Linked DNA regions of Homo sapiens. The protein of the gene in region 1 interacts with the protein of each later gene in a pairwise test. Each region holds a gene or a part of one and is shown on either strand. Other genes may lie near its edges.

What was found. The genes of interacting proteins can lie anywhere in the genome.
Region 2: the proteins of SPINDOC (region 1) and UQCRC1 interact in binary tests that used the Homo sapiens proteins (3 or more experiments, as listed by UniProt).

The regions. Positions count from the first base shown.
Region 1 is NC_000011.10:63,816,431-63,820,177, reverse strand, and holds part of SPINDOC (spindlin interactor and repressor of chromatin-binding protein), read right to left. Parts: intron 2,374-3,747; coding exon 2,044-2,373; intron 1,963-2,043; coding exon 1,813-1,962; intron 1,652-1,812; coding exon 1,526-1,651; intron 1,377-1,525; coding exon 1,176-1,376; intron 1-1,175. UniProt on the Homo sapiens protein: Chromatin protein that stabilizes SPIN1 and enhances its association with histone H3 trimethylated at both 'Lys-4' and 'Lys-9' (H3K4me3K9me3).
Region 2 is NC_000003.12:48,608,259-48,612,005, reverse strand, and holds the start of UQCRC1 (cytochrome b-c1 complex subunit 1, mitochondrial precursor), read left to right. Parts: upstream 1-2,359; 5' UTR 2,360-2,385; coding exon 2,386-2,454; intron 2,455-2,703; coding exon 2,704-2,844; intron 2,845-3,747. UniProt on the Homo sapiens protein: Component of the ubiquinol-cytochrome c oxidoreductase, a multisubunit transmembrane complex that is part of the mitochondrial electron transport chain which drives oxidative phosphorylation.

The sequences.
Region 1 (3,747 bases):
GATCTGCCCGCCTCAGCCTGCCAAAGTGCTGGGATTACAGGCGTGAGCCACCACGACTTGCCTTGTATGTAAGCTTCTTAAACTCAGTAGGAGCCCAAACAACACAAGCACTTACTGCTGTTATGAGGCAATTTACTGAGCTGGTGTCCCCTGGAGGTGTCTGTCCACTGCTCATCTTATCTATTCTCTGGACACCTAACTGAATTGCTGAGTGGCCCCATCTGGGCCTCAGCTCCACCAGGGTAAGGTGGGCACCCCTCAGGCTCTAGCTAGAACAAACTGCATGTGTGGAAATCAGTATCAGGCTTCTGGGAAACACTGGCCTACCCGGACCCAGTGACCAATTCCAGGAAACAAGGAAACACTAAGAAAAGCCCACCTGGTCAGGTGCGGTGGCTCACGCCTGTAATCCTAGCAGTTTGGGAGGCTGAGGCAGGTGGATCACCTGAGGTCAGGAGTTCGAGACCAGCCTGGCCAACATGGCGAAACCCTGTCTCTACTAAAAATACAAAAATTAGCTGGGCATGGTGGCACACGCCTGTAATCCCAGCTACTCAGGAGGGTGAGGCAGGAGAATCGCTTGAACCTGGGAAGCAGAGGATGCACTGAACCGAGATCGCGCCACTGCACTCCAGCCTGGGCGACAGAGCAAGACTCTTGTCTCAAAAAATAAAAAATAAAAAAATAGGCCAGGCGTGGTGTACTTTGCGAGGCCAAGGCAGTTGGATCACCTGAGGTCAAGAGTTTGAGACCAACCTGGCCAACATGGGAAAACCCTGTCTCTACTAAAAATACAAAAATTAGCCGGGTATGGTGGCGCACGCCTGTAATCCCAGCTACTAGGGAGGGTGAGGCAGGAGAATTGCTTGAACCTGGGAGGCAGAGGTTGTAGTGAGCCGGGCTTGTGCTACTACATGCCAGCCTGGGCAACAGAGCAAGATTCCGTCTCAAAAAACAAACAAACAGAAAAAGAAAAGCTCAGCTTTCAGGCCAGCCTTCCTCATCATTCAGATCCCCTGCCCCGGCCCCGTGTACCAGGAAACCTGAGCACCACCCACCCCACCCACCCCACCCACCCCTACTGTGGGCTCTGCCATAGAGCAGCCTCTCTGAGGCCTGGCCCAGGAGCGCTGCCTGCGAGGTCCCTACTGTGCTTCCCTCTCAGGAGGGCTCACCTGGAGAGGGGCTCTCCGCCCGGGGAAGGCCTCCTTCTGCCACTTCCCTGTCTTTGGGTGAGTCCTTGCTGTCTGGGCCCCTGAGCTGGGTGTGGGAGAAGAGCTGCAAGACGAAGCCGGCGGGGAAGCTGCCGTCAGTGAAGTGTCGGACCTCGGCTGGTGCTGCGAAAGTCTCCGTGGGCGAGTCTGGCGATGGGGGCTCTGGAAGGGAGGACGGGATGGAACTGTGAGTGAAAAAGCCTCAGGAGCTGCAGGCGCCCTGCGCCCAGGCCCTGCTCCATCCTCACTGATGCGGATTTCCTCAGAGCACTGCGGCCAGAGCCCACGCCTCCCCCGGGCCTCCCCTTCACCTGGGTCAGGGTCCAGGTTTTTGGTCATAGGTCTGCCTCTTTTCTTTCTGACTGGCTCTTCCCCTGGGGGTTCCTTCCATCTCTGACCACGGGGCTTCTTATTTCCTGGCTCTGTGGCAGGGACAGCTGCAAAAAGAAAAGACCTCATACCCTTTTAAAGAGGCCATCCCCGAACCCTGCCACCCCAGGGCTCCTGAAGATACCTGCCCAGAACACAGGGCCTGTATTTCACCCTGTCCCCAAACCCCCACCTCCACCGGGGCTCACTGGCTTCTCTGTTGACTAACCAGGAAGCTCGAGGGGGCGGAGTCCCCTGGGCCGGCTCCTTTTAGGGAGGGATGGGTTATCCTCAGAGTCAAGGAGAACGACGATTTCGGCTGGCATTCTGGCAGCGTCTGGGTTGGCGTCTGGGTCTGGGTGGGCATCCTGGCCCGAGTCTGCAGGGAGCAAGAGCACAATGAGCTTCTAGTGCCCCAACAAGTCCGACTTCTCCCTTCGCCAGCCCCAGGACCAACTACCTGAGTTGGGTGGGGACGGCTGCTCAGCTCTCACGTCTTGCAAGAGGGCCACCCCTTCACTCCAGGCCTCCAGGATATTGCTCTTCTCAGAAGGGCTCAGGTCCAAGGTGTGAGGGTGCTGCTCCAAGATGTGCGAGCGAGCTGTGTCGGCCGAGGGTGCCCGGATCTCAGCGCCACACACCATGCACAGTGCCCGCCCGCTGCCTCCTGGGCTGCTGCCCACCAGGAACTCCTGCTCCCAAGACACCTGCTGCTTCGGCTCCTCACAGCCATCACTGCCTGCCTCTAGCGGGCTGGGTCTAGGCGGTGGGGTCTTCTCCTGTTGGGTCACTGCGAGGGGAGAGGGGGAGGGTGTTATCACTAAAGGTGCCCACAACCAACAACACTTAGCACGTCTCCAGACTCAGTGGTTTGAGTGGGATGGGGGAGGAGAGCATTTCTGGCCAAAGTGTTCTTCTTCCTTCCCCTGGAGCCCATGAGGCACACGCCACACTCAACACAGCCGATGTGCCCGGGATCCCACGACTCTCGCGTCTATACTTCCTCTTGATCTAGTCTTGGACCTTAGGACTAACTACACATACTTTCCCAACAGGCTGCATTCTTGCAGGTCTCCAGCCTTTGCACATCTGTCCAGACCACCCTAATTGGGCTGGGCAACATCATCCCTGCGAAGCTTTCCAGAACCCCAATCCCTGACAATAGATTTCATCCAAATCTGACTTCTACACTTTCTTGAGGATGAGGAAGGTAAATTCTTTTAATTTTTAAATTTTATTTATTTATTTTGAGACAGAGTCTCACTTTGTCACCCAGGCTGGAATGCAATGGCGTAATCTCAGCTCATTGCAGCCTTGACCTCCTGGGTTCAAGCGATCCTCCTGCTTCAGCCTCCCAAGCACCTGGGACTACAGGTGAGCGCCACCATGCCTGGCTAATAATTTTTTTTTTAAAAGATGGGGGTCTCATTTTGTCACCCAGGCTGGAGTACAGTGGTGTTATCATAGCTTACTGCTGCCTTCAACTCCTGGACTCAAGGGACCCTCCAGCCTTAGCCACCTGAGTAGCTAGGGCTACAGATAGATGCATGCTATCACACCCAGCTAATTAACAAACAAAAAAATAATTTTTAAGAGATGGGGTCTTGCTATGTTGCCCAGGCTGGTTGTGAACTCCCGGGCTCAAGCAATCCTCCTGCTTCAGCCTCCCAAAGTGCTGGGATTATAGGCATGAGCCACCATGCCCGTTCTAAAGGCCACCCCATCCCCTCAGAACTCGCCTCCCTTCTCAGTGCTCACAGAGCATTTACAGCCATGGTCCCACTCCTATTGCTGCCTGATACCTGCTCTTTGTGTACACAGACAGACCATAAGCTTTCACAGGGCATCACCCTTTCCAGTTCAGCAAAGAAGGCAGCCTTAGACCTGCATCAGCCTGGAAGCTCAGTGCTTTTACGAAGTGCCCATGATCCTTCACGGCTGCATCTCCCTCCTACCTTCCAGAGAGGATGGGACAAAATTAAAACACAGGAGGCCCTAATACCTGGGGGCTGCATGGAAGAGGTGGTATGAGAAATAGGAGCCTCGGCTTGCATGGATACAAGAGGTGGTGTCTGAAAGAGATACGAGATATGTCTTGTACCTATCTCTCATGCGACCATGGGCAGAAATGACCTCTCAGTTGCAATCAGCTTTCTTCCCTACT
Region 2 (3,747 bases), on another chromosome or scaffold:
CCGCACCCGGCCTGTAATGTATTTCAATGTTAAGTCTCCACCCCAAAGTGAACATGGGTCATATACAACACACATGTTTATTCAGTATACTTGCATTAGGACCCCCTTCATGAGTATCTATAGCTCTTCCTGTAACCTGTTGAATATGGTATTTTTTGTTTTTGTTTTTTCTTTTTTGAGACAGAGTCTCGCTCTGTCACCCAGGCTGGAGTGCAGTGGCGCGATCTCGGCTCACTGCAACCTCCGCCTCCCAGGTTCAAGCGATTCTTCTGCCTCAGCTTCCCGAGTAGCTGGGATTATAGGCACATGCCATCATGCCTGGCAGATTTTTTGTATTTTTAGTAGAGACGGGGTTTCACCATGTTAGCCAGGATGGTCTCAATCTCCTGACCTTGTGATCCGCCCACCTCGGCCTCCCAAAGTTTGGGATTACAGGTGTGAGCCACCGTGCCCGGCCGAATATGTATGTTTAGCCAAGCCATTCGACATAAAGCTCCTGCCTCTTTTTAAGGGTCTGTCTCTGGTTTTGACCAGAAGCCCACCTCCCAGCCTGCAGGTTGTAACCCTTTATAAGAAATAAAGTCAGCCTGGCACGGTGGCTCATGACTGTAATCCCAGCACTTTGGGAGGCTGAGGTAGGAGGATCACTTGAGCTCAGGAGTTTAAGATCAGCCTGGGCAACATAATGAGACCCCCGTCTCCACAAAAAATAAAAAAAAATTAGCTGGGTGTGGTGTGAGAGCCTGTGGTCATGGCATCTGGCATGATTTTTATAAAGATAGTTTTATTTTAAGTATAAGAGTAGTTTTTGGGTAAGGTGTGGTGGCTCACCCCTGTAATCCTAGCACTTTGGGAGGCTGAGGTGGGTGGATTGCTTGAGGCCAGGAGTTTGATATCAGCCTGGCCAACATGGTAAAAAATGCAATGATCCTAGCCCTTGCCTCTTCCTGTACTTAAGATACTGTCTGACAGGATTAATGATTATGCTTCTGTGACCTATAAACAGATGTACTCTTGCACCCAAACCTTGATGAGATTTATGCTCTAATGTAACTTCTGAGCACATTTGATGTAATTTCTGAGCACATGGAGAGCCGCCACCACCAGTGTATAAACTGTCGGAAACACTGCTTTGGAGCAGTCTAGCAGAAACTCCCTGAAAGGCTCTCCCGGGTTGCAATTCTTGGTAAGACTTCTGAATAGAACTAACTTTAAATATTTAAAAGCTTGTTTTTTTTTTTCTTTAGTTGACATAACAAAGCATACCTTAGAAGTCTTTTTTTTTTTTTTTTTTTTTTTTTGAGACGGAGTTTCGCTCTTGTTGCCCAGGCTGGAAATGGCGCGATCTCGGCTCACCGCAACCTCCGCCTCCCGGGTTCAAGTGATTCTCCTGCCTCAGCCTCTGGAGTAGCTAGGATTACAGGCATGCGCCACCACGCCCGTCTACTTTTGTATTTTTAGTAGAGACGGGGTTTCTCCATGTCGGTCAGGCTGGTCTCAAATTCCCGACCTCAGGTGATCCGCCCACCTCGGCCTTCCAAAGTGCTGGGATTACAGGCATGAGCCACTGCACCCAGCCAGAATTCTTTTTCCTCTTACAGAAAAGGAAAGGTTTCACCATGTTGGCCAGGCTGGTCTTGGACTCCTCGCCTCAAGTGATCCACCTGCCTCGGCCTCCCAAAGTGTTGGGATTACAGGAGTGAGCCACCGCTCCCGGCCTGTACTTAGTTCTTTTAAAGAGAAAACTGGCAGGGCGCAAAACTGGCCAACATGGAGAAACCTTGTCTCTTCTAAAGAAACAAAAATTACCGGGCATAATCCCAGCTACTCGGGAGGCTGAGGCAGGAGAATCGCTTGAAGCCGGGAGGCGGAGGTTGCAGTGAGCCGAGATCGCGCCATTGCACTCCAGCCTGGGCGACAGAGCGAGACCCTGTCTCAGAAAATAAAAAATAAATAAAGAGAAAAAAATACTGACTTTCAGCACCAACTTGTGGTCCCAGGTAAGTTTCCACGCTGGTACTTTAGCCCTGGGCTCGAACCTGCGGACACGCTGTGGCTGCAACTCCCCGCCCGCCAGACCTCAGTACGCAGCGCGGCTGGTGAGAAACATAATGCACTCTGACTTCCACGCGTGGAATGGGGAGATGGACTGCACGGCGGGCGGACCTGCTCGGGCTGATGGACGGCAGGTGGACTGATGTGCGCAGGGACTGGCGGCAGCGCGGTCAGAGCCAGTCAGCCAAAGCCAGGCCAGCACAATAGACTGTCCCGGTTCCCGCCAGGAGGCGGCCGAGCACCAACTGTACGGTACTGCGCCTGCGCCGCGACCGCCAACGCGCCCAGTCTACGCTTGCGCGGCGCAACAGGGCCGACTGCAGCTGGAAGATGGCGGCGTCCGTGGTCTGTCGGGCCGCTACCGCCGGGGCACAAGTGCTATTGCGCGCCCGCCGCTCGGTGAGGTGGTGGCGAGAGCGCGGGGCTTCGGGACAGGGCTTCGGGAAGCGGACAGGTGTGGGCTGTTAGCAGTGGCAGGTCGAGGTGGGGAGGACGCGGGGTCAGGGCCGTGGGAAGGTCACGGCGGAGGGCGGGGAAAGGTATCTCGCCGCTTGCCTAGGGGCGGGGTTCGGGGGTCCTCCTGAGGACCTGGGAGGTGGGGAGCGATCCCCTGACCGAGTCCTCACTCGCGGCTGTTCCCTTCCACAGCCGGCCCTGCTGCGGACGCCAGCCTTGCGGAGTACGGCAACCTTCGCTCAGGCGCTCCAGTTCGTGCCGGAGACGCAGGTTAGCCTGCTGGACAACGGCCTGCGTGTGGCCTCCGAGCAGTCCTCTCAGCCCACTTGCACGGTGAGTTGGGGACGCTTTTGGGGAGAGGGCCTCCAGGTTGGGCCTGCCGTCTTTTCCCTGGTTGGGGTGTGACCTTGGGCTCGAGTCTTCCCGTTTGTGGTTTGGGTTCGGACCCAGGACCACTCACCCCGAGAATGGCCCCATTCCCTACCCTAGCCACGCCTTGGCTTCACGGGACAATCTTCACTATAAGCCAACATTATTTAGCATATAATGCCCGTTAAGTAGGCGGCCAAATTCTTTTCCAGCCTTTTGTTAAGGAGCCCATATAAGGGAAGTGATCATGTCTCCTCTTATAATGCGGAAAATGGGATTCAGACACCTTAGGTGACTTGCAGGGGTCCAGGTCTGTCAGCCTCACTGCCCAAGGTCATAATCTCCAGGCTAGACCAGAAATACATTTTAGGAAGCAAATGCATTTTAACAGTACAATGAAATGTGTGATTTTCCAAAAAATACAAATTCTCTAAATTGACACAAGAAATCTTGAGTCACAGATAGATATATGAATAGGTGAGAAGATTCCCAAGAAATAATTATCTCCTCCTCCTTTCAGCCCCCAGCCCCAGGGCCAGATGTTTTTATTGACACATCCTTTTAGTTTTCCAGAAACAATGTCCTGCGATTTAAATTGTTACTAAGCATAGGAAAAGGTGGCCTGCAACTTCCTTGTTATATGTCACTTGTTATAGTAAAGAATGCTATATTACATGAACTCTAAAATGTGCTAGATTGTAAGGAGCTGTCTGTGCTCCAGTGCCAGAGAAAGAATCTCAAGAATCTTGCCAATTTTAATCAAAGGATACTATAGATTGTAAAATGCCTCTTGCATTCCAAGATGTTAGATGTGAAATACATGTTCATCTAAGATTGTGTGATATATGGTATATGCATTGACATCTC